3 separate regions of the Homo sapiens genome follow, and regions 2 and 3 are each linked to region 1. Evidence: fine-mapped expression QTL. A gene starts in region 1. Each other region holds a variant in brackets. All regions are shown on one strand. Distances are from middle to middle.

Region 1 (9,677 bases):
TAGCAACCACATATCACACCAGTTACAAAAAGCAGTGGAAGTCAAAATATCACTTTACCCTGCTCTTGAACAATGTGATACCTTACCAAACACTCATTCTCTATCTTGTGTTCAATTTCTAAAATGCCTAATTACCTCAACTTTACATCTACACCCTTATACTTCCCCTACTTAAAAACCCATCCACATGACAGAATTTCACTTGTAGATCTCTCCTGGAAGGGCTGACATGTACAATAGTTCAAGTTGTTCACTGAATAAGAGCATCCAGGTGAAGGGACAAGTAACAGCTGAGATTTTAGATTAAAAATGGTACACATTCCTTCTCATGATTGTTAATGAGCAGTAAGGTCTATGTTCCCTTGTCTTAAATCTTGGCAGACTCTGAAGCTGTTTGAGCAGTAGAATATAGTAGAAGTGATTCTGTTCTAGCTTACTGGCTTAGACATGAAGAGACTGGCAACTTTGACTTCTTCTTGCTTAGAAACACTTGCTTTTTTTTTAAGAAGTCTTGCACTGTCGCTTGGGCTGGAGTGCAGTGGTGCGATCTCGGCTCACTGCTGCAACCTCTGCCTCCCAGGTTTAAGCGATTCTCCTGCCTCAGCCTTCCAAGTAGCTGGGACTACAGGCACCCCCCACCACGCCCAGCTAATTTTCTGTATTTTTAGTAGAGACGGGGTTTCACCATGTTGTTCAGGCCGGTCTCGAACTCCTGACCTCAAGTGATCCTCCTGCCTCGGTCTCCCAAAGCGCTGAGATTACAGGCGTGAGCCACTGAGCCCGGCCAACACTTGCTCTTATAACCCAGCCACCACCATAGGAGGAAGGCCAACACCGAGAGGAACTGAAACCCCAGGAAAGTCTTAGCTGAGCTCCCAGCCAAGAGCCAGCACCAACTGGCCAGTCTGGTACATGTACCTAAGTCAATATGCTGCAGCCCACACTGTGTGGACAAGACATGAGCAAGCCCTGCCTAGTCCCTCCCAATCCCAAATTTTGGAACAAATTAATTGAGTAAAAAATTTACCCCAATACGTTCTGTGTAACATTCAAACTCTTTACCATGCCATTTTTAGTCCTTACCAACCTAACTCTGCCTACCTTTTCATACTTCTCTCCTACTACTCCTTAATCAAATCTCCCTCTCTAGCTAGATTTGATGATTTCCTGAACACACTTTGAGTAATTCTGCCTCCCAAACATACACTGTACCTTCTACCTGAGCAGCTCTCTTCTGTCTCTGCCCACCCTCTCAGATCATGAGCCACCTTCTTTTCAAAATCTTCCTAACTATTCTACTTCATTTCTCTCTAAGTCTGTGGCTCTTTTGCTCTGTCTCATTTGGTACTTATTTATAGCTTGGGTCCATTAATCATTTTCTTCTTGATATTCTTTATTAAAATAACATGTAATTTAGCGCTACTCCAAATCTCATTCAAACTGTTTGCCATAATCAAGTGTGGAAATTGAAGGTAATCATTTAGAAACTTTTGTAGCAATTTGATAGAGTAATTTTATGCACATTGAACCTTATCATAAAATAATTAGCCTTGTCTTTGCCATATCATTTTCTAGTAATTAGTATTTTTTTAAAAAAGACTTTTTTCAGAACAGTTTTAGGTTTACAGAAAATTGAGCAAAACATACAGAAACTTCTTATATAATCCCTGCCCTTCCCCATTCCCTGCAACCTCTAGTATTAACATCACACACCAAACTGGTACATTTGCTGTAATTGTTGACACATCATATTACCCAAAATCCATTGTTTACATCAGAGTTCACTCCTGGTATTATACCACAAGGGAGTTTGACTAATAATTGATTTTTAATTGCATTTTACAAAAGTATCAGTTATGACTGATTAGAAATAAAAAGCAAAACTGGTCTAACAGAGTTTGAGAAGTACTGTTAACAATGAAACCTACTTGAGGCACTAGACTATAGCACAAAGTTTCTCAACCTCAGCACTATTAACATTTTAGATGGATCATTCTTTGTTGTGGAGACTGTGGTGTGTATTGTAGGATGTTTAGCAGCATGCTTGGGTCTACGTAGACCGTCAGATGCTAGAATACTTCCAACCCCTGAGTAGAGCCAATCAAAATTGTTTCCAGACATTGCCAAATGTCTCCTGGGTCAAAATCAACCCAGGTTGAGAACACTACCATAATGGTTAAGAGCAGTCCTGCAACGAGGGTAAATTGTTCAAGCTCCAAATCTAGCCCTGCCACTTAATTAACTGTATATCTTTGGGCCAGTAAATTAACTCATTTTCCCCATTAGTAAAACGATTAATAAAAGTACTAACATTAAAGGCTTTTGTAAAGCAAAAATGATGTAACAAAGAATATATAAACCACCTAGAACGGTATTTGAGACATAGTAAGAATCCAATAAACAAAAGACATTGTTTCTATCACTTCTGGGCTACTCACAGTGCATATAAAAATGAATAGGTATTTTGTCCCATTCTTAGATCCAAGGGAAACCACAGCTTAGTGATAGTGCACAGGTAGAGACAGATATGAAAATAATTACTATGTGTATTTATAAATGTTATAAAGAGGCAAGTGAGCGAATGACTGTCTTAAACTGGTTTGTGCTATGGGTAAGAATGTACAGGCATAACTCTTTTTATTGTGTTTCACTTTATTGAGCCTCGCAGACACTGTATTTTGTTGTTGTTGTCTTACAAACTAAAGGTTTGTGGCAAGCCTGCACTGAACAACTATATTGATGCCATTTTTCCAACAGATTGTGCTCACTCTTCACATTTCTGTGTCATATTTTGATAACTCTCACAATATTTCAAACCTTTTCATTATTATATCTGTTATGGTGATTGATGTTACTCTGTAATTGTTTTAGGGCACCATGAACCATGCCAATATCAGACAGAGAACTTAATAGGTAAATGTTGCGTTGTGTTTTGACTGCTCCACCAACTGGCTGTTCCCTGCCTCTCTCCCTCTCCTTAGGCCTCCCTATTCCCTGAGACACAATGATATTGAAATTAGGCCATTTAATAACCCTACAATGGCCTCTAAGTGTTCAAGTGAAAGCAAAAATCACACCTCTCTCACTTTAAATTAAAAGCTAGAAATGTTTAAGCAAGGTGAGGTAGGCATGTCAAAAGCCAAGATAGGCTGGAAACTACACCAGTTAGCCAAGCTGTGAATGCAAAGGAAAAGTTCTTGAAGGAAATTTAAAGTGCTATTCCAGTGAAGACATGAATGATAAGAAAGCAAAAACAGCCTTATTACTGATAGGGAGAAAGTTTGAGTGGTCCGGGATTGAAGATCAAACTAGCCACAACACGCCCTTAAACCAAAGACGAATTCATGGCAAGGTCTTAACTCACTTCAATTCTATGAAAGCTGAGAGAGGTGAGAAAGCTGTAGCAAAAGAGCCTGAAGCTAGCAGAGCTTGGTTCCTGAGGTTTAAGGAAGTAAGCTATCTGCATAACATGAAAGTACAAAGTGAAGCAGCAAGTGCTGATGCAGAAGCTGCAGCAAGTTATCCAGTTCTAGGTAAGATAATTGATGAAGGGGCTACACTAAACAACAGATTTTCAATGAAGACAAAACAGCCTTCTATTGGAAGATGCTATCTAGGACTTTCATATCTAGAAAGAAGTCATTGCCTGGCTTCAAAGCTTCAAAAGACAGGCTGACTCTCTTGTAGGGGCTAATATGGGTGGTGACTTGAAGCCAATGCTCATTGACCATTCTGAAATATCCTAGGGCTCTTATTCTTTTAAATCTACTCTGTCTGTGCTCTGGAAATGGAAGAACAAAGCATGAGTGACAGCACATCTGTTTACAGCACGGTTTACTGAGTATTTTAAGCCCATCTTTGAGACCTACAGCTCACAAAAAGATTCCTTTCAAAATAATACTGCTCAATGACCACGTACTTGGTCACCCAAGAGCTCTGATAGAGATGTACAAGGAGATTAATGCTGTTTTCATGTCTGCTAACACAACATCCATTCTGCAGCCCATGAATCAAAGAATAATTTTGACTTTCAAGTTATATTATTTAAGAAATACATTTTGTAAAGCTATAGCTGCCCTAGACAGTGATTCCTCTGATGGATCTGGGCAAAATAAATTGAAAACTTCTGGAAATGATTCACCATCCCAAATGCTAGTAAGAACATTCATGATTCACGGGAGGAGGTCAAAATATCAACATTAACAGGAGTCTGGAAAAAGTTGATTCCAACCCTCATGGATGACTTTGTAAAGGTCATGACTTTGTTCAAGACTTCAGTGGAGGAAGTGATGAAAGATCTGGTGGCAATAGCAAGAGAAATAGTGGAGCCTGAAGATGTACCTGAATTGCTGCAATCTCATGATAAAACTAGTGGAAAAGAAGTTGCTTCTTATGAATGAGCGAAGTTCTTGAGATGGAATCTACCCCTGGTGAAGATGCTGTGAATATTCTTGAAATATCAACAAAGAATTCAGAATATCACAAAACCTTAGTTGCTAAAGCAATGGTAGGGGTTAAGAGGATTTACTCTAATTTTGAAAGAAGTTCTACAGTGGGTAAAATGCTTTCAAACAGCATCACATGCTACAGAGAAATCTTTAGTGAATGGAAGAGTCAACTGCTGTACAAAATTCATTATTTTGTTATTTTAAGAAACTGCCACAGCAACTCCAATCTTCAGCAACCATCACCCTGATTGGTCAACAGCCATCAACATCAAGCAAGACCCTCCACCAGCAAAAAGATTAGGACTTGCTGAAGGCTGAGATGATTAGTAGCATTTTTTAGCAATAAAATATTTTAAAATTACAGCATGTAATTTTTTTTTACACATAATGCTATTGCACACTTAATAGGTTACAATACAGTGTAAATACAACTGTTATATGCACTGGGAAACCAAAAAAATCGTGTGACAGGCTTTATTGGTCTGGAACCGACCCCGCAATATCTCGGAAGTATGTTTGTACATTATTCATAGAAAAAGTATTATTCTAATAACATTTTGAAATATTTAGCCAAAAAGTAGAAAAATGAAGCATCCAAGGGAAAACAGTAAAACTCGGACGGCAGGAAAGCTCGGAAAAAACACAAAAAACCTGGCGTGTTCAGGGACAGGATAATCCAGCGAGGCTTTTAATGTGTATAGGAGAAGTGAAAAGAAATAAGGCTGGTACAGTAGTTTGCCGCCAGACTATATGCTTTAGGAGAGAGGGAGGCATTCTAGGTTGTCTTGTTTTTCTTACCAGCTTGTTGATACTCATGGGACTCAATTACCTCAATTTAGACCTCTATGTGGGCACAAGAGTGAGTAGGACTCCTGGAGAAACACAGACACTAATGTCCAAGGCTGCACTTGACTTCACTAGTGCCCGCGGGAGAAATTTAGCAATGAGGATGAGCCATGAGGATGATTCGGGAGAAATAGGAAGTATTCATGGCTTTGCTCCCTCCCCCCTAATCAAACATCTCAATCTCAGGATCCTAAGGGCAGATCTTTTAGGACATCGGGCATTTCCCCGTAAGCAATCCCCCCTCGCTATCCTCAAATGCAAACTGCGGAGTCTGCCACAAACGCGTTGGCTTTAAAACTCATCCCTGAACTTTAGATCCACCCAGCCGGTTAAGGATATCACGACTCACCACTGATTCTTCTTGCACCCTTCTGAGAGCCGCGCTTAGAGTAATTCGCGCCCAAACATTCGTAAACAGAGGAGACCCGGAAGTGGGTGGGAAGAAAGCGGAAACGGGCATCTAACCCTACCCCTAAACGTCATCAGGAATGCGCCCATGAGAGCGCTATTAGATTGGCTGGAGGGAGGGCGGTGTCGGCCTACGCCCCCAGAGTCGTCCGGCTGACGCTGGCGGTGGCGCGGTTTGTGTGGGCTTGGTGAGGGCGGGGAGGCCTGGCTGTGTGGATGTCTGACAGGTGAGGCGGGGGACGCAGAAGTGCAGCCGCCCTCTCCCACAGCGGAGTCCAAAACAGGCCTACCAGTGAGTAGGACGTACACCTTTCAGATCGCTCCATTCTTCTGGCTCCTGTCCCTCCTCTACCCCTGTATTTTGAACTTTTGTCCTTTCTCTCCCGCTCTGTCCTTTACTTCTGTCTTCTTTACCTTCCTACTGTGACGGGATCCCACTCTCTGCCTTCTCCTTAGGTTTAGATTTTCACTTCGACCAACCTCTAGTTTTGGGCGAAGTCCCTGGCAATTCGGAGGTACTTCTGGAAAGAAGGTGCTTTTAATACTTTAGGGGCCATGTCGGTATCTTCTTTGGCCACTTAAGCACCCTGAACTGTTCCCGTTGGCAGAGGTCACTTTTTGTATGGTTCCAAAGGGATGCGCCTGCTTCATGGCTGCCTCCCTTCTAGGTTGTGGGTTATGTTATTGTCAGGGTTTTTCTAAGAGTTTTCGGGAATAAAAGTGATTTTCTGTGTGTAAACAGGATTAAGAGTGTAAACAGTGTTAAGAGTGAGAGGTAGAATAGAAAAGACAGGTCTAAATTGACATAAAAGCTTACATTACTAACTCGTTCTCAGTTTTATCTAGAAAGAAGGTGGTCTTAGGGAAGCTCGAAGCCCTGGATAACGTATGTGTGTAAAGTTTTAAACCACTTGATGATTTTCTGCCAATATAATTTTGTGTTTAATGATGTACTTATGCTAATATCAAATATAATTTTCATGCCCTATGTTTCCATCTCCAAACCCAACTAGTTGAACATCAAAGTACCTTCTTGAAGTATTAATGTGCAATCATACGTCAGCAGCCAAAGCTTGAAACTTATTGGTTCAAGAAATCTTTTTCTCACTGATTTGTTTTTGAGGTGTGGGGGTGGGATTAATCATTGCTCTTTAACTCATTTTAGTTGTCAGTAACATATTTGCTTTGCATGTTGCTTCTTTGAATGCTTGAGGCCTCTCTTGATGGTCTTCTGAGAAAATTCAGAGGTCGTATTGCCATCCGCAGTAGTTGTGTTTTTATCTAAAAATGGTGTCTGTTTCCAGCCTCCACCAATTCACATGTGATTTTCAGGAAGTCACTTAAACGGGGCTCTTTCCTATTAGTTGTTCAGATTTAGGAAAGCCCACGTGAAATGAGTGTGATATTTCCTGCCAACAGTTTAGTCTCAGGTGGTTTTCAAATTACCTTTTACAGGATTACTATTGAAACAGTTTAGTTGTTGCTTCATTATTTTTTTCATCCACCTTTTAAGCTAGTAAATGTAGTGGATGGCTTGCAAAAAGATGGATGACAAGGACCCCATGGATTTAAAGAATAAAAATCGTGCTAGTATTAAAAAAATGGAAGGTTTTTTTGTTTTGTTTTGAGACGGGGTCTCTCTCTGTTGCCCAGGTTGGAGTGCAGTGGCACGATCTCTGCTCACTGCAACCTCTGCTTCCCGGGTTGAAGTGATTCTCATGCCTCAGCCTCCTGAGTACCTGGGATTACTGGTGTGCGCCACCATGCCCAGCTAATTTTTGTATTTTTAGTAGAGACTGGGTTTCACCGTGTTGGCCAGGCTGGTCTTGAACCCCTGACCTCAGGTGATCCACCTGCCTCGGCCTCCTGAAGTGCTGGGATTCCAGGCGTGAACCACCATGCCCAGCCTTTTTTGTTATGTTTCCATTTAGACTTTGTTCTATGTACTTTTTACATAGTTGAACCTGTTGCACTTACAATTACGTGTCTTGAGTCTTTTACTTACTACTTTTTGAGTTTGTTTCTCTTTTTTTGGGAAACTATGCATAACACATTTTTAACTTTTTACTTATACATATATTTACAGAAACTGCATAAAACATAACTGTATAATTTGATGAATTTCCACAAACAGAATATATCTATGTAAGTGGCAATCAGATCAAGACCATTACCCCCAAAAGCCCCTCTCTTGCTCCTGTTGTATTCTAGCAACCATTAAGTAACCATTCTTCTGACTTCTGACATCAAAGATTAGTTTTGCCAGCTTTCTAAACATATTTTGATAACTACATGAAATTCTATCATTTGTATATGCTGTAATTCACTTATTCATATGTTATGAGATACTTACGATTTTCCTAAGTTTTCTCTATTACAAATAAAACTATAGGAAACATCTATTTTATATATTACTACAGAAGCTTTCCCAGGAGTAATGTTCCTCAGTGGAATGGCATAAACATTTCTGAAGCATTTCATGTATATTGACAATTTACTTTCCAAAGTAGTTAAAATAGTTAATACTGTCACCAGTGGTTTATGTCTCTTGTTTAACGACCCCATAATAAGTGTTGAGTATTGATTTCATTTAAGCTTTACTAAACTGATAGGTAAGAAGTGGTATGGAAAATAAAATTTGAAACTCCCTTTACTTGTTGCCTTATCCAGTATAAAACACATAGTATAGTGAATATATTAATGTTTGCATCTCAATATCTTTTTAAACAATGGGCTCTATATGTTTACGCTGTATGACTCTGACAAGTTTTAGTAATTCAGGTAAACAGTTTACGGCTTTGTGAGGTGGGATTTTGATCAAGCGACTTTATTTCTCTGAGCCTCAGTTTCTACATCTGGAAAATGATGACGCTGAACCCAGCAACCTAGTATAAAAGTCTATGCTAGTTATCCGGAATATGCAGCTCTAATGTTGGAGCAGTTTATAAACTAGCACAGAAGTAGATTATTGAAGAGGCCATTTAGCTCACCTTATGGGTTCTGGGATGAATTGTGTGCATATTAGTTAAATGCAAGGACTTTGAAACAGGCTGCATAGGTTCCAATCAATGCTGGCTCTTCTGTGCCTCAGTTTCCTAATCTGTAAAATAAGGATAATAATAGTACCTACCTCTTAGGGGTATTGTAAAGATTAAAATTGCTACTCTCTGTGATGTCTTTATAGCCTTCTATGTTACTGGCACATAGAAACGCTGCAAATTGGAGATAATGCCTTAGCTGAATTAGCCAGAGAAGAACATTTTAGGCAGAAGGAAGAGCAAGAGCAAATTCAGAAAACTTTGACATATGTGCAGCCAACTGTAGGTAATCCAGTATTTCTAGTGCACAAAATGCATAAAGAGGACAAAGACAGAGATGGGTCTGAGGGGGAAACAGAGACCAGTTCATGAAGGCCTTGAATGCCTGTTTGTCTTATTCATCACTTTTTTCTCTATTACCCAACATAATGTCGGTCATAAACTGATATTTAATAAAAGCACTTTGAATGAAAAAATTAATTAGGAGGCTGTAGTATATCTTCCACATGATACAGAGTCTTTGAAAAATTCCATGAGGAGTGTGACATAGTCATATTTACATTGATGTCATTGTATGGAAGGGATTCGTATAGAATGGAGTAGAAAAGGAGTAAGACTGGTCAGTAAGACCAGCTAAGAGGCTACTGAGGAAAAAGACTGAAACTACAGGACTGATAGTAATTGTGAAGAAGAGGGGCCAAAGTTATAAAATATCAGGTGCAGGAAGCAGAAAAGGGGAAGAAATGAAATCAGACTAATACATCCTCTTTCTTTTCTGTTCCTTTCTTATGAGTAGCTCCTATTTCCCACCCCCTCTTCTAAATGTTTTTACTCTATGTTTCTTTTTCTAGGTCAGTTCTTATTTCTATTGGGTGTTTCCATGCTCCACCATGTTAAGAGCTAAGAATCAGCTTTTTTTACTTTCACCTCATTACCT
Region 2 (10,442 bases), 61 kb before region 1:
TACTTACTATCCTTCTGAAGGGTAATTACTTCCTGACTTCTACAGATATAGATTCATTTTGCCTGGTTTTAAACTTTATAGAAACAGGATTATGCAATATGCAGTTTCTGGCTTCTTTTTGGTACATATGTTTAAAATATTTGAGAGTGAAATATGGAATGAAGATGTTTCATTCCTAATGTATTCTTGACCTCTCAGCATAATTTGACACCATTGACCATCCCTCCATTTTTAAATTTTTCTTCTTTCTCTTCCATGGGAGTCATCTCCTGGCTTTCCTCCTATCTTCTGGCTGCTCCTTCTCCTATTCCAGAGCCTTTCTTTTCCCTTGCCTTAAATAGTTGATGCATTTAAGGTTCAGTCCTAGACAACCTCAGCTAAATTCATGGCTTCTGTTATCATCTATATCAGTTATCTGTTATCTATATCTATATTTATATCTATATCTATATCTATATCTATATCTATATCTATATCTATATCTATATCTGTTATCATCTAAGTCAATACATCTATCCCAAATAAATTCTCTGAGATTTAGACTCAAATATCCAACTTGGTCCCATCACTTGCATGTTTCAAAACTCAACATCCCAAAACTGAACAAACAATTTTCCCTGCTACAAATTGCTCCAGATCTGAGATTTTTCCAGGGTTTCTGATCTCAGTGAAAACTATCACCAGCTGTGGCTTTCACAACGTAGAAGCCCAGTAGTCATCCTTGACATTTCTCTCTCAGCATACCCTACAGCCACTAAATTATTAAGTTCTGACAACTCTTCCTTTTAAATAGTTTAAGTAACTGTTCACTTTTCACCATTATCATTGCTAGCATTCAGATCCAAGCTACCACCACCTTTTGCTTAGCTTATAGCCTCCCAACTAATTTCCAAACAGATTAATGCGCTGCTTAAGGCTTTTTTTTTGGTTTTTATATTACATTGAAGAATTTCCTTGAATTAACAAATAAAACCTATGTTAATCAAGCCTCTTCCTACTTCTTTTTGTTGAGACACAGTCTGGCTCTGTTGCCCAGGCTGGAGTGCAGTGGCGCTATCTTGGCTCACTGCAACCTCTGCTTCCTGGATTCAAGTGATTCTCATGCCTCAGCCACCCAAGCAGCTGGGCTTACAGGCATGTGCCACCATGCCCAGCTAATTTTTGTATTTTTAATAGAGATGGGTTTTTGCCATGTTGGCCAGGATGTTCTCTAACTCCTGGTCTCAAGTGATCCATCTGCCTTGGCCTTCCAAAGTGCTGGAATTACAGGTGTGAGCCCCCACGCCTGGCCCCGTTTCTACTTCTTGAGTTTTTCTCTTCTCCTTGTCCTCTCCTTACTCCAGACTTTCTCTGCACATGCCTTAAAAGGGTCAGAAACAGTGTTAAAAGTTGAGCAATTATATCCAACATAGTTAGCTGGAAGATGAAAGTAAGAAAATAGTATAAGAGCAATTTGGTAGGAACAAAAATCTTTCAAATATGGGGTCTGTTTTGGAGGTGCGGGTGAAGGTAGAAAATTCAGAATGTAACGAGATAAGGGAATAATTATTTACAAACTGTTCCAAGCTGCTTAAGAGGCCAATTAGCATAATGACTAGTAGTATAGGCTTTGCAATCCAACAAACCCATGTTCTGATCATGATTTGGCCACTTAGAGCCTGCATGACTTTGGTGACTCATAACACCTCTAAGCAAGAATTCCCACAACAAAGCAATACCTTATCCCTCACCAGGATTAAGTTATATACATCTCATATTTGGTACAATTATTAGCACATAGTTAAACGTTAAATGTCAGGCAAATTATCATTAGGAAGAAAATAAGGCTATAATAATATTGCTATATATCAAGCAGGATTAACTCATGCTTAAGCGATGCTAAACATAATTAGCGTCCTTAGGGCATATTCTCCTAAGAGGTTTATGGACTCTGGTTACTTGGTGCTTTCCCCTCTGGATCCAAGGCTAGATAAGTTTCCAGGTAACTGTGGGCTCAGGATGAACTAAGCATATATTTACTCTTACTGAGTCCTATTTTTTTAATTAAAATGTGTTTTACTTCAGCCAGTTTGCTTCCTTTTCTCAGAATGAATGCCTGAAAGTTGGATTTTCCCTTATCTTTGTAGTCAGAATTTTGTGACCTCCTTGGGGATAAGAAACCAATATTTTCTATATAGCTAAGTCAACATTATCAAGACAAGGCAAATCTAACTATTGTGTTAGTGCCTGCTTTTATTATAAATAGAGAACAGAGCTGGTGATGCTTATCTCTTTCTTTACTGACCTTGAAAGGTATACATACACAAGCAATCAGAACCCAAATTAAGAAATAATGACAAGAATAAGAGAAAACTAAAATTAATATTTTAATTATGTAAGCATTTTAATTTTCATTATAAAAAAGGATACATGATTTAGTGAAAATAACAGATTGGAATTAAAATGGCAGCATTCTGGCTTTGCCTCCAGTACTGATTATAAAGAATATAATCTTGAAAAAGTCATTTATTTTCTCTGGTCCTCAAATTTTTCATATGTAATCAAAGGGTTAAAATTTATTATCTTATCAAAATTCTATGAGTATATACCTATACATATAAAAGAAATGAAGAGAATGTATATATATGTGTATGCATATATGTTATATATTCATTTGCATACCCCCAAACACCCCTATATATAAATCTTAGTTTTATATGGGAAAGTAGACTATAAATAAGGGGGCTGAAATAGGTTATAGGTAAAGTCTAGTTCTATGGTGACAGCATTTGTTTATAGCATCAAAATGCCCATATTGTCATTCATCCAAGGCAAATAAGCAGTGGGAAGCTGTTAGAAATGCAAATTTTGGGCCCTACCTCGTAGAAGGAGAGGCCTAGTGATGTGTGTTGCAACCTGCCCTCTGGGTGATTCTGATAAACACTAAAATGTAAGAACCACTATATTTGAACATTCCCAGGGCAGTGAACTATAGGCTAGAGTCCTAGGCAGAAGTAAAGAGCAAGTAATTAAAGGGGAAAAAGGAGGTTACTCTACAGAGAACTTGGTGGCAGAGGTGTTAGGAACAGAGGTTGATGAGACATAGCAGTGGGGACAGGGGAATATGATGGCAGTAGGGAAGCGGTGTGGCTTTAAGAATACAGAGCAGAGGTCCAAGCAGCAATCAAAAAGCAGTAGCCACGTGGTCCTCTGTTAAATCATTTGTTCTCATGCAGTAATTTCTCCTAGTACACTAAAACTGCTGGCTTTAGAACCTATTCTCCTACAGTGGATCCTACAGGAGGACAATCGTCCTCAGTCTTCAGCCACAGCTACTCTTCACCCCCACAGCTATTTACTGGAGAAACCTGAGATACGAAAAATTAAGGCTTCTCAAGTGGATCCTGTATATATTCTCCAGACCCTTTCCAACAACTCAAGAGTCCCCTGATTCCCATTTTAACTCTCCCCTCGTTGGCAGCCAAGAGTGTGTGTATGCTCAGGGAAAGTAATAAAACCACTGCAGTTTTTTACTGGGCTAGAGGTGAGGCAGGCCAGAGAAAGTCGCAGGGGTGAGAATAAGCCTGTGGAAGCGACAAGGCAAGAACTCAGCATGGAGACTCTTCAGGAGGCTTATAGACGCCGTGTTGTCATCCAGGACGTTCCCCTGAGAGGGGAATCCCCGGCTTTGCAACTTCCTGGCCAGCGTGAGGGCCACCAGCCGGCTGTAACCTTTCCTGCGATGTTCTGGCAGGGTGTAGCCATGGCACATGGTGGCAAACTGGTCTGTGATGGACCAGGAGACCGGGTTTCCCTTCTCATCCCGGACACACACACTAGGGAAGCAGGAGATGAGGTTGGCGATGTACCGGAGACATTGTTCATTGCCTCCCCGGGACCAAGTCCGGTTGAGTAGATCCGCATTGGCAACACTCAGGTAGGTTAGTCGTGGGGAAGGCCCCTTGCTAGACCAGAATGACACAAAAACAAATAGGACCTCAGACTCATGTGGTTATACATAACTACACATTTTTTTTTTCGAGACACAGTCTTGCTCTGTCGCCCAGGCTGGAGTGCAGTGGCGTGATCTCTGCTCACTGCAACCTCTGCCTCCCGGGTTCAAGCAATTCTCCTGCCTCAGCCTCCCAAGTAGCTGGGATTACAGGCACCCGTCACCATCCCAGCTAATTTTTGTATTTTTAGTAGAGACGGGATTTCACGATGTTGGCCAGGCTGTTCTCGAACTCCTGACCTCGTGATTCACCCCTCCCGGCCTCCCAAAGAGCTGAGATTATAGGCGTGAGCCACCATGCCCGACCTATAACTACTCTTTTCATATTGGTTCAAACTGAGAAACCATCCCTGAGAGGGCACCTAAGATTTTCAGTGAGTTAGAATCCACCATTCCCGATTTACCAACACCTTTCCGGGTTTCATTTCTGAGAAGACAAAACACTTATTACATCAAATTTAAGTCGTTGCTTCTAATTTTATGTTCACTTGCTTTTGCCTTCAGCACAGGTTAAGGAAAGTGTTTCTGTTGTTAAATAAATTAAGTTTGGCCTGCAGCTCCCTCCATACCTTGAGTCCCCGCGTGTTGAACTGCAACCTAACTTGACACAAAACCAACCCTAGAACTATAATGCACAGCTGAGTTTGTTATACAAGTCAATCACAGGCAGGTAAGTGAGCAGACCATGCCCAAATATACCTAACTGTTGCCAATCAGAGGATTTACCTACTTTGCTTCTGTGTCTGGCGTATAAAATCTCCCACTGGTGGGTATAACTCTGAACTTCTCATTCTGAGTGCTGCCAGATTCATGAACTGTTCTTTGCTCAAATAAACGTTGCTGAATTTTTTTTTTTTTTTTTTTTTTTTTTTTTTTTTTTGAGAGCCTTGCTCTGTCTCTCAGTTTGGAGTTGCGGTGGTGCAATCTCGGCTCACTGCAACCTCCACCTCCCCGGTTCAAGCGATTCTCGTATCTCAGCCTCACGTGCGTGTGGGATTACAGGTGTGCCACCACGCCTGGCTAATTTTTGTATTTTTAGTAGAGACAAGGTTTCACCATTTTGGCTAGGCTGGCCTCCAACTGCTGCACTCCAGTGATCCAACATCCTAGACCTCCCAAAGTGTTGGGATTATTACAGGTGTGAGCCACTGCACCCAGACCAACGTTGCTAAATTTAATCTGTCTAAAGTTTTTCTTTTAACACTTTCTGTAAACAACAACAACAACAA[CAAA/A]AACCCTCAGAATTGCTTTTATTTAGTCCTGACTCTGCTGAAATCCTCTCTGAGGCCTTGGTAAGTCCAGATTCTTGAAGCCCTAATCTTTTGCTCAATAAAAAAAAAAAAAAAATGTTTTAGAATAGAACTTCTGTGGTTATGCATCCATGGCCAAAAAAGAAATAAAATCTCTTAATATGCCAAGCATATGTGCATGCTTTAGAAATGTTTGTTCTTTTTTTTTTTTTTTTTTTTTTTGAGAGGGAGTCTCGCATTGTTGCCCAGGCTGGAGTGCAGTGGCTCACTGCAACCTCTGCCCCCTGAGTTCAAGCGATTCTCCTGCCTTAGCCTCCCAAGCAGCTGGGATGACAGGCGCGTGCCAACATGCCCAGCTAATTTTTTTATTTTCAGTAGATATGGAGTTTTGCCATGTTGGCCAGGCTGGTCTCGAATTCCTGACCTCAGGGTGATCTACCCGCCTCGGCAAGTGCTGGGATTACAGGTGTGAGCCACTGCACCTGGCCATATTTGTTCTTTAAAACTGTCTCCTCGGCCTGCTGTTTTCTAGGTTAAATAGTACCAACCTTCAACTTTTCCATTGGCAGTATTTGTATAGGCCACTAGCTTTCACTGTATTTATTCTAATGGTATGAAAGTTTTTATTAGTTTACTATATAAAGCCCCTGATATTAAGATAAAGAAAAAGAATTGCTGCAATTTCTCAAAACTGAAATGGATTACTTAGTTGAAAGCCTATGAGGCTGACAGTGCCTCAGAATTTGCTCTCAGTCTTAAAGCTATTAATATCATAAGACTATCCCCAGTGACCGGTAAGAGATAATGTTCTTGTCATCATTTTTATAAAGTAAAAATTTGTGTTTTCTTTTAATTAGAGGTGTGTAGTGTTATTGCACATTTCAGGCATATTATCAGCTATGGAACTGGGCCAGTCATCTATCCACTAAGCAGGGGGAAAAAATTAGCTGGCCTAATGGAATTTTCAATTGAGTTTTTGAAAATGAACTTTAAAGCAGGCAGAAATATCACTGCAAATAAAATCATTGCTAAGGCAAGTGTTTCAGGAGTAGTTGTGTTAGAGACTCTGACCTTGTTTCCAAAGGGCTGGGTGTTCAAAATAGAGTTCACGCAGTTGAGTAATGACTTAGGTGTTAAAGGCAAATTGTTTGCATCAGTGTTGTGTGGGAAGTTAAGAAAAAAAAAAAAAAGACAAAATGTCTAACTGTATGCAGAAGAGTTCAAGTTAAAACCCCATTTCAAAAGGCTTGACTGGACAGAGGAAATTTTAAAATAATACCTCAGGCATACAATAGTAAACAGATTATGGGATACTTCAAAGAACAAATAACTTGGTTTCTTCAACAGAAAAGTAATGCAAAAAATAAAGATGAAGGGGAACTTATAAGTCAAAGGAAACTTCAGATGTATTAAAGAGGTCTATGTATGAACCTTGTTTAGATGTTGATTCAAAACAAGCTTAAAAATATTACGACAATATCGGAAATATGAATAATGTTATTTTACTTTAAGGAAATATGTTAACAGTATTTTAAGGGAATGTGCAGAAAAGACTAACATAGAAGGCTTGAGGCCATCGCCCTTAAAAAGGCCGAATTGCAAGGTTGACCCTTGGTTGGTGTCTGAGAACATGGATCTGGAGGGGGGCTACCATTTCCAGGACTCACATAAATGGCTCACTGTGATTAAGTTGTGCAAACAGTGTGGGTTTTGCTGAACATTGGCTTTCCTTCTGCGAGTCTAGGAAATCAGTCTGTGCTAGGCAGAGGATGCTGCCAATAAAATCCTGGGCACTGAGTGTCTAATAATAAGTTTCCGTGGTAGACAACTTTTAGCAGAGCACGGTGGCTCATGCCTGTAATCCCATCATTTGGGGAGGCCCTGACAGGAGGATTGCTTGAGGCCAGGAGTTTGAAACGTTTTACACATATCATTACAGGTCATTGCTTAGGGACTGAGCACATTCTGTGTGACTCCACTGAGAGAGAACTCTTGGAAGCTTGTGCCTGGCTTCCTCTGGACTTTACACAATGCTCCCTTTCCCTTTGTTGATTTTGCATTTTATCTCTTCATTGTAATCAATCATAGCCGTGAGTATATTTGCTGAGTCCTGTATGTCAATATAGTGAACCATAGAACCTGTGGGTGTTCTTGGGGACCTCGGACACAGGAGTAATATCCGTATAGTGGGTGTTTTTTTTTTAAGACTCATTTTTTAGAGTTACATATTAAAATATTTAAGGATAATGTCTGGGACATTTTCTTCAAAATAATCCAGGAAGTGGAAAGAATATATAGTTGTATGAATTAAATAAGGTCAGCTATGTATTGGTGGGAGGTTCTTTATACTATCCTTTAAACATTTATGTGTGTTTGAAATTTTCATAATTAGAAATACAATAAAAGAAAATCCAGTTGCTTTCCTATGACTTAAAATGTACATTCTTAAGGTTTAGTGCTGTTTTGCTCAACAATTTCTTCAACATTCACTGTAGGAGTAAAGAAAATTAACATTCGTTGAGGTGGGTGATTTTTAACTATCTTGCTTCAGTCTCTTGCAAAACAACGTGTCAGGAAAATATTACAACTTTTTTTAATATTAACTGGCTTGGTTTAATCATTCTACAGTATATACATTTATCAAGACATCACATTGTACCCCATGAATGTGTACAATTATTATTTGTTGATTTAAAATGATATTAATTTAAAAAACACTTAAAGGAACGAATTCAGAAGAAATTGAGACTCAGAAAGGTAATTAGTAAATGACAGAGCAGGGACTCCAAAAGAAGAATAAATGCAGATACAAACTAATGAGTGTTTTGAAAGATTGCATCTGGAGTTGGACTTGGGATTCTTTCTTGGCTCTATAATTTGCCCTTGTGTGTTACTTCATCTCTGTTTAAAAAGGTGTGTGGGGGTGGGAGGGGCAATAATAATAGTCCTACTTCACAGGGTTGTGGAAAGAACTAATGGGATAATATATTTAAGATATGTAGTCCCTGACACATAAGAGCGCAACATAAGTCAGCTATATACCCCCATCCCTGAAACAGCAAAATCAATAACAACTTTGGACTCAGACAGTATATATTATTTAGAATTATTTGAGGGATAAGGACACCAAGGAATGCTTTTTCCATGGATACTATGAAAACACAGGAATTCTGAGTTCATTTATAACTATGGACAAATATACTGATTTGATTTTCAATGAAATTATGAGCAGTCAAGCACAGGAGAGAGGAGAAGAGTAAACACACACACACACTCACACACATACTCCCGTTTGTGCTCAATGGTTGAAATCCAGAGTGCCTGGATATTCCATAGTGATACTAAGTACCCCAGTTACTGCTACGTGTACTTCTATAGCAGTAAGTCCTGCCCCAAATGCAAAAACTTGGTTTACATACAGGAAACTGGTATCTGGCAGAGATGAAACAGGAGAAAAATGAACAGCCTTGAAGGAAGTTAGCTTTATATTCAACTGCTTTGAATTGGCAACCGCTTTGGAAACATCATATAACTCACTCTGCAGCCCTGTGTATAGAAAGACATAATTTAATATGTGGGCATTTTAGTTGAAAAAGCAAAAAGGAAATTTGTTGCAGTAATTTTATACTGAGAATCATCAATACTAGCAGTTTGCCACCTTGTATTATCCTAACCACTGTATACTTACATCTAAATTATTACAGCTATTGTCTAAGTTTCAAATTTTTGTAGGCGTTTCAAATTCCCATGATGTTGCCCATTGGGACCACTCATCACGATCTTCATAGAAACTTATGATGGGAATATCTCACGGGACTTTAGAATTTCTTGGGAGAATATTGATACTTTGGACTCTCGGACTAACCTTAAGCTCCACGAAATAAAGGATGACATTTTAGAGCTCTAAAAGTCTATGAAGTATACAAGAGCTTAGATTTGTTTGGCGTGGCAAACCAACTTCAAAGACTCTCTATTACACCTCGCCATTACAGAACTCAAGGTGTAACTCAGTGTTGGTGAGATTTACCCTGAACTTACCTCACCCAGATTCCACTTGTCATAGTTATTTGATAAATCTTGATTCAGTAGGTGTTGTATATATATAAAGTACTGTACTAGACAATGTTCATAGTGGTACACAAAAATGGTATGGTTTCTTTTCTTTATTTTATTTAGAAACAGGGTCTTGCTCTCTTGCCCAGGTTAGAGTGCAGTGGAATGATCATAGCTTACTATAACCATGAACTCCTGGGCTCAAATGATCCCCCTCTTTCAGCCTCCTGAGTGCATGCCACCACTTGGCTGATTTATTTTTTAAGTTTTGTTTTGTTTTGTTTTTGTAGAGATGGGGTCTCCCTATAAGTCCAGGTTGGTCTCAAACTCCTGGCCTCAAGTGATCCTCCTGCCTTGGTCTCCCAAAGCGCTTGGATTACAGGCATAATCCACCATGCCTGGCCCTTCCTGGTCTTTGTTCTTAGAGAGGTTATAGTATGATTCCTTTCTCCACCTTTCCAAATCCCCATCTACTCCATCCTTTCCAGCCTGTGTCCTGTTGGATTGAATTCTCTGCAAACTGACTTCCCCTCTTCCCATGACTAATGGCTTGTTTCTTCCCCACTGGTAAGGCTCTTCAGTGTGGGCCTGGGACTTCTTGAAGAATGCATGAGTGGGAAGGTGTATTGAACACAGTGTGGTATCGGAGCCTTGGCTCCTCCCTCAGGGAGTTAAGCCTCAGAAAAGATAAGTAGGCTTTTGAGTTAATGTTATTAAAATTACAGATGCTGTGGCTAGTATCTCATATTATAACACTGAATTCCATCTAAGTGATTCAAAAGACTATGAGAAAAAAGGAGGCAGTGCCTACTTTTCAAGTGTGTGTTCTTAAACACACTATAGTTTAATTTTGGTCTCAAATTTTTTAATCTACCTGTTTTCCTTCAATCCCTACCCCCACTCTTTGATTCTTTCAGTTTATTTGTTTAAAACACCGAGGTGTTTGCTGTGCAGTTTTCACAGTCTTGGATTTTGTTGATTGCCTCTTCATGGTGTTCTTGATCATGTCCTTTTGTCTTCTTTACAAGTTACGACTTTTAACAAATGATTTTCTCCTTTCCCACAAATGAAAGGAACTTCCCATCTTGCTCTGCCTCTTTCTACCTACCTTCTATGAGAAGAGTGGCTAACTGGATAAGCCAGAATTC
Region 3 (10,442 bases), 140 kb after region 1:
TACCCCCCATTTTTGAGATTAGCAATTATTATACCTTTGGTTGTAAGGAATCACCTGTTATAAGATTCCACAGTTACTTTCCTAGTAGTTTCAACATGTCAGGAAATATGTAAGGCTTAGTGAATATAGAAGTGAACAGAAGGGAAAATATATCTGCCCTCATTAATTTTTAATAACAGTTAAGAAGCAAGTAAATAAATATACAAACAATTGTGATAAATTTTGGAAGAGGAATACTAGCATGTGGATGTACTCACAGAATGTGGTTGGGAAAAGGGATTGTTATGCTAAGAGCTGGTTGTAGAGTCTTTCAAATGTCCTGAGACAGGAATGGGCTTGGCCTTTCTTAAAAAACAATAGAAACCCAATGTGACTATAACAGGATGAACTGAGAGAGACCTGGCATGAGATAAGCTTGGATTTCTACGCAGGGCAAGATCATGCTATTCCAAAAGGATTAGTCTACACCTCTCCATGCCTGATTCCTCATCTCCTATGAACATAAAACTTAGATCTATTTTCTTATAATCAGAATCCATTTAACAAATTCACTTTCCCAGCTTGAATTTAAGGCTGCAAATACTGGTTCTTGCCCATGTTTTCCCATGTGGCTCAGTACCCTGGAGACCAGTCTTAGCTCTGTCTGTAAAACTCTTGTTTTTCTAATATTAGTATATAATATGAACATCACCCAGCACATTTATTAGACCTTTTTATTAAAATTTGGCCCATGGTTATCTTGTTATATATTGCTGCATAACAAATTTTCCCTTAACTTAGAAGTTTAAAGTGATAGATATTTATTATCTCATAGTTTCTGCAGGTCAGAAATCCAGGAGTGGCTACTGCATAGTTTTGGCTCAGGGTTTCTGATGAGGTTCCAGTCAAGCTGCTGATCAGGGCTGAAGTCATCTGAAGGCTTGACTGGACTGGGAGGATCTGCTTTGTTTTTAAGATCATTTATGCTGTTGTTGGCTAAAGACCGTGGTTCCTTACAACATGGGCTTCTCTACTGCGCTGTTCATGACAGGACAGTTGGCTTCTCTCAGTGTAAATAATCCGAGAGAGAGAGAGAGAGAGAGAGAGAGAGAGAGAGAGAGAGAGAGAGAGAGAGAGCAACCAAGATGGGACCGTGTTTTTTTTTTTAACACTTATTATCAGAAATGATATACCGTCATTTCTGCCACATTCTATTGATCACAAAGACCAACTTTGCCACAATATGAGCAGGGAGGAAACAAGATTACAAATCCTAAATGGCAAAGATCTTTGGGAGCCATCCTTGAGGAGACTGTCATATGAATTTTGGATTCAGGTTTATGGCTTTGAGCCTTGGTTTTTCATTTTACCAGTTGCATGTATGTTTGTTTGTGTGTGTATATATACTTATAATTAAAGGTTATTTTTACCTCTTTGCTTCTCATCCATGATTTCCAGTCATGCACTTTCCTGAATATTTTGCTTGCCGGTCTGTCCCTTCCTTGACTGTTTTGTCTTTAGCTTAACAGCAATCACAATATGGAGGCAATGGCATCTACTGAATATGGGAATAGTCCAGGAGCAACCCTCAGAAACACAACACATTTGAAACCTAAGATGAGTTATGAGGAAAGACCATATACATTTCAAAGTATTAGTCATGAATCTCCAATAAAGCCATTGTCTTATAGCTGAATTTCAGCCTTGAATTTTTATTTTGTTAATTTTCCAAACAGTTTTATAAACATTGTGTGTTAACTCAAATAATATGCAATGCACAAATTTTGCTGAGTCCAGACCTCTTTTGAAAATACTCATATTTTTCAAAGGGAGGAACATCTTAGATATTAGTAGCAGTTAATAGTTAATGAAGTTAAAATTAGCAAAACACCATTGTCTTTTTAGTTTTTTATTTATCTTTTGCACATGGTATGTATGTTTTCTGAACACTTTGGTTATAAAAATCTGCTCAGCCTGATATTTTTTCCAATAAAACATTCTTAAATCATACCTCTTTCAGTGAGGCTCATGAGACCCTGTTTAACAAACAAATGGAGGAGCTGTTGAGCTCTTAATTATACTCACTTAGTTTCATGAAAATTTGAGATAATGAACTTTGAGGTATTTCTTATGGGTACTAATAACAAGTGGTTGGAAATTATAGGGTTCTCTATGCCTTGCTGCTATTTTCTTGTTAATTATACTTATTACTGTGAAGCTCTATTGCAGCAACATATGTATAAACTAAATACACTCAATTAATTTGCACTATTTTAGAAACTGTGTTTATTAAGCAAAACAATGCCAAGACTCTCTGATAGAATTTAAATGGCTGGGCTTAGGAGATAATAGCATTTCTTTAATTGAAACCATTTCTGAAGCTTAAATGTGATGTTTATATGATATCTTTCCCTCTGTAACATCCTTATGTGGATGAAGATTATTCTGGTTAAGAAGTGAAATACTGAAAATGTCACTTGGTTTTTATTTATGGTTATTTTTTACTAAATAATTTCTGATGCTGAAATAGCCAAACATGTTTGCATGTAAAATTAAGCTTGGTACCATCAAGGGTAGTAAATATTAAAGTGAAGGAAATAAGAACGTTTGGGGAAAAACTCTTGAGTTCTTCTTCTGTTTCTCTTGGGAAATTTATATTCCAGTACTAGCATTATCTATGCATATGCCCACTTTCTCTAGCAGATTTTGACCTCTCTGGGCAAGAGCTGAGCTTTGTTTGTATTTTCTACACGGCACTGAGCCCATGGTATAGAATATAGTGAGTGTTTTATAAAATAATAATGAATAAGGGAAACTCTCCAGGACCCTGGGTCAAGATGAACTGAAAAATATAGCCTATAAATTGTGATATACTTAACTGAAATAAATAGTTTAACAGAGAAAGTGAGGAGTTGAGCAGAACAAAGGGTGGTAAAAATGTGTTTCAAATAAGATGTGAGGGATCCATAATTCAGCCTCAGGAGAGAAAAGATGTCGCCACTAGTTCAGGGGTTAAAACTATATTTCTGTCTATATGAAATAGTTGAGTGTGTTTGGAAGGTGGACGGCACCAGGTCAAAGTGTCCTGCTAGCTTCTCCTAAACTCTAAATAGCATTGTCCTAGCAATGTTAAACATGCCCAGTCCTTTATACTGAGGAGGAGTCATCTAGGCTGTCTTAGTGTACAGGAAGGATTTTGGGTTAAACTCAGTATTTAGTAAAGTTTAAATGAACTTTTTCAAAATAGCAAGAAATGCTTGACTTTGGTAGCTATGCTATCCAGGTTGATTGGAGTTTCATAACATAAAACTAAAAATTCATTTCTACTAGTCATGCATATTGAAATCTACATTTAGTATATGATACTGAGGATGATAAAGTGGCAGGAGGAACCCTGCAGATATGAAATGCAACATAGTAAGATAAAAATTACATGAATTTTATATGAAGACTCCTAGGTTTGAGTCCTAGCTTTTCTATTTACAGTTGTGTAATCTTAAAGAGGCTGTTTTTATCTCTTTGTTTCTTAGTGTCTTTGTATGTATAATTAAGATTTTATTGTTAACTGTGAAGAACTAGAAAACAGGGCTTCTGAGTATTTGAAAGCCCAATAAATGTAAAGTACAAGAGGAGAAAATGAGGTATGGTCTTAAGAAGGTAAACCCCTGATTTCTTTGGTGGTAGGGAGTAGATGGGAGAGAGAGGGCAAAAAGGAAAAAAGAGAAGTGAGAGGGAGAAAGAATGAAAGAGGGGGAGGAGAAAGAGAGAGAAAGAGAGAGAGAAAGATGTGGATCTGGTAAAGATTTCCTTCTGAGAGTAGGACTTCATTATGGAAAATGCTCTGGGATTTTTTTCGAAATGGTTACTTTATTTCTTCCTCTGCCAGAAACAACGTGTCACAGAATTAAAATAAATTAAAAAATGTTTCCTAGCCATCAACAGATAATATATCCAGAATATTTTTCAATGGCCTGAAGTGTAATGCCTTGACATTATCATCTAAGAAAGATTAGCTTAGGCTCATTTCTCCAAAGAAGTGAAGTAGTATTTTGTATAATTACCTAGTGCATTTAACTTTTATTACAAATTATTCATATAAATACCATTTCGGCCCTACTTGATTTAATCTTATATTATTTCCCAAATTTTTAACCTTATTATACCCTTAATTGCCAATTTTGCTTTTTCTTC[T/G]TTTCTCTCACCACTAAATCTGTGTCCAATTCATTTCTTTTAAGTTCTTTGTCTGGGCCCATGAACTAGTGTTGCTGATTGAGGATATGCAATTATAATATCCAGTATGGCAAGTTTATATAGACATATATTTAACCCAGTTTCCATTTGCTCCAAGAATTGTCTGTAACCATCATATACATTTCTGTTATATTAGGATTAGAGACAAGTTCTGTTTAGAAATAACTCCAAAAACAGTTTTTATACATTATTTTCACATTGAAAATCAGTCAGATCTGCTCCAGCCTCAAAGATCATGTTTATGTAAAATTAAATGAGTGCTGGCAGCAAGCTGCACTTTTTTTTTTCCTAAATAGGAAATAGGTTAAGCTCTCTAATTCATTTCTAGGCCATGTCCAGTCTTTTAATGAGCATATCAAAGACATTCTCTGTTTCTGTTACAGGGTTTTTGATCTCTAGAATTTTCTTTCCATTTTTTTTTTCATGGAGTTTCCATCTCTCTGCTTACATTATTCATCTGTTCTTGCATATCTATTTTTATGTTTTCCATTAGAGATCTTAATATAAGAATCAAAGTAATTTTGACTTCCTTATCTGATAATTCTGTGTCATATCTGAGTTTGGTTCTGATGCTTGCTTTGTTTCTTCAGATTGTGCTTTTTTGCCTTTTAGCATGCCTTGTATTTTTTTATGAAAGCCAGATATGATTATTAGGTAATAAGAACTGAGGTAAATAGGTCTTTGGCATAAGAAGTTATGTTTATCTGGCTAGAAGGTAGGCTGTTTTCAATATTTGCTGTGACTGTAGGAGCCAGAGCGTCAGACTCCTCTAGAGTCCTGGTTTTTGTATCCTCTGTTGTCTTTGTGTTTCCATAGAGACTCCTTTTTATTTAGGATCTGAGCTTTATTTAGGATCTGCTGTTCCTTTAGTTGTATTCATTGTTATTATACAGGAGTCCTGTTGATGTGATGGTAAGGGGTGTGTGTGTGTGTGTGTGTGTGTGAGTGGGTGGGTAAGTGTTCTATTATACTGCAATTGGGACTCAGTCTTTTTGTGTGTCTCCATCCCTGGGCTGTTGCCTTTCAGGAATATTTCTTAGCTTCCTTTCCACCCTTTAGATGAGGTAGGAAGGCTAAATGGAGCTGGAGTGGGGTAATTGGCCTTCTCCCAGTTCAGATATGGACCTGGTAAAGATTTCCTTCTGAGAGTAGGACTTTCTTATGGAAAATGCCCTGGGATTTTATTCAAAATGGTTACTTTATTCTTTCCTTTGCCATAAATATGAGGATTTCAAAAAAAATCTTTACAGAGTGAGACTCCATTAGGTAAAACCTGTGAAAATATGGGAGTCGCTCTAGGACTGAAACCCTCGGAATTGTCACTTTCACACTAGTCTCCAGCAATTCATCAAAATTACTATTTAAGTATTCACACCAGTTTGTGGCCTAACAGTTCTGTTCCTGTTAAATTGATCTTGGCTGTGATTGCCTGTATTTGGCTATGAATCTCTGTATTCTCCAATCTCTCCAGAGTCTGGGGTTTGCCCTGTTACTTCAATTCTCTGATGCATCTGAGAAAATTTGTTGATTTCAAGTTTGTTCAGCCTTTTTCTTATTGTAATAATGGGAGTGACAACTTTGAAACTGTTTACATGTTGGAGCTGAAAATGAAAGTCCCTCTGATAACCAGATAGGGCCACCTAAAATCATGCTCATTAGGCAGAGCAAGCTGGTCTAGGCACTGCAAAACATATCAACTCAGGTGAGTTGGTTAAAATGAGTGAAGGATGAAATAAAATCTATCAATTCACCTCCTAGTGCAGAGACTTGCAAAAAACTCATAAAAAATATGGGATGATTTCTTACAGTCCTAAGCAAAAGACATAGTCATACGATAGTTCTATCTTTTGTGTTTCTGTAGCACTTTCACTTTACATATTTTATGATTCATATTGTGTTATAGTTGGCTCATTATATGTAAGCTTTTTGAAAGACTTCAAACTAGCATGAACAAGACCACTATTAGAAGAGATTACAACTGATAAACAATATTGTGGAAACAAATACACAGTGTGTGATTGAGAGTATAGCCAAAACTATCTGCATTTTAAGTTTTTTACTTTTATATGACCATCAAATATTTAGCCCATAATAATGTGGATCCAACCCCACCAATTCTCATAAAGTACTTTTACAAAGGCCTCTACAAGTTAATTTTTCTTCTTCTAAGTTTCACCACTTAACCAAACTATAAGCTAATCACCTGTATGACTATCTCTATTCTCACTAGATAGGAGGCTTTTTGAAAGCAGGAGTGATGTTATGAGCCTGTTGTATTGCTGGCATCTAGCACAATGTCTAACACATAGTAGGTTTTAATAAATACTTTATAAGTGAATTAATGAATGAAGGTCACTAATACCAGAACTACAATGTTCTATACATACACAAAAAAAGGGCTGACCTTATCAGTAAAGCACCACGAACATATTGTGAAACCTTTCTCCTTTTAAGGACAAACTCATTATTCTCTATTTATAGCATGCACAAGGAAGCTGACAAAATCAGGAAGAAGTAAGAAAGCATGCATCATGAACATTGGAATGTGAGACATTTCCTCCTGTATTAATCATATTTTCAGATTCTGTGTTGACTATTTGACATCTATTATTCCTAACCTCTCCATAAGCCTGCTGGATCACAGGGCCAAACTAACAACCAATATTGTTTACATCTTTACCGCAAGTTAGCTTTCATGGACATGCAGAAGTTGTATTACAATCCTCCCAACCACTAACCCTGACCTGCCTGTTTCCTCTTAGTTCCCAGTAGGGAACATTTCCACCTAGTTACTTTATTCCACGATTGTCATACAAGTATAGTCCCAGTTCCTCTGTTTGTCTGCTTTCCTACCCATGCATATGACAGACTTTGGGTAGCCTGTATGGTATGCTATGCCTCTCATTACCAGGGGAAATGGTGAGTATTAAAAACTTTCTTTCAATGGCATTTACTTCTTTGTGTCATCACTCAGTTACATGTATAAGTTAAGAAGTTGACACAATATAACCTCTCATCATCAGGGTGTGTTATGAAGTAATCTCACTTCCTTTAGCACTGAGATTTTCCTCTGCTTTCTGCTATTGTCCCCATAGGAGATTGATATGGTTTGGACTTGTGTCTCCACCCAAATCTCTTCTCAAATTGTAATCCCCAAGTGTTGAGGGAGGGACCTGGTGAGAGGTGATTGGATCATGGGGGTGGTTTCCCCCATGCTGTTCTCATGATAATGAGTGAGTTCTCTCGTGATTTGATGTTTTGAAAGTGTGACACCTGTGCCCCTGCCCCACCTGCCATCATGTAAGATGTGTCTTGCTTCCCCTTTGCCTTCTGCTATGATTTTAAGTTTCCTGAGGCCTCCCCAGCCATGCAGAACTGTGAGTCAATTAAACCTCTCTTTTTTTTTTAAATAAATTACCCAGTCTCAGGTAGTTCTTTATAGCAGTGTGAAAATGAACTAATACAGAGATATTCAGAACTGTAAGCATAATTATCAACTTCAAATGTGGAGTGCAGTTTCTTAGCCACTCTCCTTCTTTTTCCCTGCAGCCTACCCCAAATTGTAGATCATAAGTAGCTGGGCTGCAAAACTGTCTTAATAAACTTGGATTACTCCAAAAGTTTTGAATTAAAATGTTAGCACTTATTATATATTGATTAATTTAGCTTTCTAAGTGTTCTGAAAGAATACTGGGCATAAAATGTAATTGCTTTAGTTAATAGCTATTTGATTGGATGTTGAGTGTCATTTGATCGTTTACCCTTAAAGTCTTTCAAACTTTAAACTGAAATTGAAAAATGTCTGGTGGGATTAAAGTATGTGAGTAACTTTAAAATAAAAAATAAAAATAATCTGGTGAAAACCATAAGAAAATAGAGAAAGAGGGAAGAAATAGAGGAGACAGAAATCTTAAATGTAATTTTGTTTTTTCTGTAGTCATATTACATTTATGTATTAAACTTATGTTTTGCTGAATTTCTTAAATCCTTGTGTCAGTGTCTTTCATCTGCTTTTGGAAACTCTTGGCCATTTTATCTTAAATATTGTGTTTGCTTCATTCTCTTTTTCCTCTCATTCTGAAACTCCAATTATAGGTATGCTAGATCTTTTCTCTTTATTTCACATATTGCTTACATTACTTTATGTGTTATTCATTTTTGTACTTCTGTCTTTTAACACTTTTTAATTATTAATTTTTGGTAACACCAATCTTTCTTATATCTAATGTGCTATTAATCTCACCCACTGGTTTGTTAAATCAATATATTTTTAAAATCAGCTTTAGAATGTCTACTTCTTTTTTCTTATAGATTTCAATCCTCTTACATTGTCCATTTTTTGTCTATTTTCTCTATATTTGTCTCTATATTCTTGGCGTTACCAATCATAATTAAAGTCCTTGACTGCTAGTGCCAATACATGAATCACTTTTATATATGGTGTATATCTGGTATTTTCTAAATCATGAGTGGTAATTTTTTCCTCATTTATTTATTTTTTATTTCAATAGCTTTTGGGGGGTACAGGTGGTTTTTGGTTAGACAAATAAGTTCTTAGTGGTGATTTCTGAGATTTTTGTGTACCCAGAGCACCCGAGCAGAGTACACTGTACCCAATATGTAGTCTTTTGTCTCTCGCCCCCCCCCCATTTCCCCCTGAGTTCCCAAAGTCCATTATATCATTATTACGACTTCACATCCTCATAGCTTAGCTCTCACCTATAACTGAGAACATACAATATTTGGTTTCCATTCCTGAGTTATTTCACTTAGAATATTGGCCTCTAGTTTCATCTAAGTACCTGCAAAAGGCATTATTTTGTTTATTTTTATGGCTGAGTAGTATTCTATAGGGTGTATATACCACATTTTCTTTAACTACATGTTGATTGATGAAGACTTAGGTTGGTTCCATATTTTTGCAATTGCAAGTTGTGCTGCTATAAACATGTGTGTATGTGTCTTTTATAGAATGACTTCTTTTCCTTTGGGTAGATACCCAGCAGTGGACGTTCTACTTTGAAAGGTTGATCTACTTTTACTTCTTTAAGGAATAGTCATACTGTTTTCCATAGTGGTTGTACTAATTTACATTCCCACCAGCAGTGTAAAAGTGTTGCATTTTTACCACATGCATGCCAACATCTATTTTTTTTTGATTTTCTAATTATGGTCATTCTTGCAAGAGTAAGGTGGTATCACATTGTGGTTTTGATTTGCATTCCCCTGATAATAAGTTATATGGAGCATTTTTTTCATATTTTTTTTTGGCCATTTGTATACCTTCCTTTGAGAAATGTCTATTCATGCTCTTTGGCTGGGTGGTAATTTTTGATTGAATGCTGAACAACAAGTATAAAATACTGTAGTGAATCTAGATAGTATCTTCTACCAGGGAGGATTCACTATCCTTCTGGCAGAAAGAAGGGAGGTTGACCACCTTAATTCAATCAGGGGCTGGCTTGAATTAAAGCAGGATTGTGGTTATAGTAAGACTCAATCTATGTTTGTTTCATTCCATGCTCTCAAAGCATAGCCCTCCACAGGATCCAACTGATAATGTGGTATGGTAACTAGGGCTCATTTCCCTGGAAAGTCTTGTTTTAGTCCTGTGGGATTGTAGAAGCTTCCATTCTGCTTTTCAGAGGTGTTCAAGCTCAATTCTTTAATTCTTGTTCTGCATAGTTTAAACATTCACCAGATTTCTCAAGAAGCCTGTCATGTCTTCAGATCTGTCAATTCTGCAGTTAAGTCACTCTGGCTCCACATGACCACCAAAGCTTTGTTGGGTTTTATGTCCCCTACACACAGTTCTATTCCTAGCAAAGTCTGAATCTCAGATTCCAGCCCATTCTCAGAACTGGCAAACGCCTGCCCACAGGGAAAAGGTAACTGTTCCTAAGATAATTTCTTTAAAGCTTTTCTTTTCTGTAATTTTAGATCCTCCATTACTCACTGCTTCTGTTGCTCAATGGTGCCTTGAAATTAAGGACCTCTTAAAATGTACTTGGATTTATTTGCAGGTACAATTAAGACTCTTTCCAAGAGTGTTAGTTTGTCACAAACTACTTCATCCCACTTTGAAGTGGAAGGTCTGTGGGTCATATTATTTCAATCAACACCTTTATTAAAAATGTTCTCAATATTGTTTGTTCTGCAGTAATAACATTGTGAATGTAATAAAATTAATATAGTGTGTTAGTAATCTATTT

The links. PIP is the estimated chance that this variant, and not a neighbour inherited with it, causes the effect.
Region 2: its variant is the best candidate, but not a certain one, in a credible set for the expression of CENPQ in whole blood (INTERVAL, PIP 0.59).
Region 3: its variant is the best candidate, but not a certain one, in a credible set for the expression of CENPQ in whole blood (INTERVAL, PIP 0.72).

What each region holds. Positions count from the first base shown.
Region 1 is chr6:49,459,420-49,469,096 of GRCh38, reverse strand. CENPQ (centromere protein Q) reads right to left here and starts at 5,727. Exons shown (of 9, transcript NM_018132.4): 1 at 5,644-5,727. MMUT (methylmalonyl-CoA mutase) reads left to right here and starts at 5,844. Exons shown (of 13, transcript NM_000255.4): 1 at 5,844-5,994; 2 at 9,592-9,677. The coding sequence starts at 9,631. RefSeq lists enhancers at 4,861-5,760, 6,105-6,174, 5,761-6,661.
Region 2 is chr6:49,519,990-49,530,431 of GRCh38, reverse strand. GLYATL3 (glycine-N-acyltransferase like 3) reads right to left here. Exons shown (of 6, transcript NM_001010904.2): 5 at 8,661-8,787; 6 at 2,354-3,944. The coding sequence ends at 3,518. Among named protein-coding and RNA genes, the nearest start is that of GLYATL3, 25 kb to the right of the region's middle. The variant CAAA/A (reference allele first, on the strand shown) is at 5,221.
Region 3 is chr6:49,322,865-49,333,306 of GRCh38, reverse strand. No RefSeq gene overlaps it. Among named protein-coding and RNA genes, the nearest start is that of MMUT, 140 kb to the left of the region's middle. The variant T/G (reference allele first, on the strand shown) is at 4,171.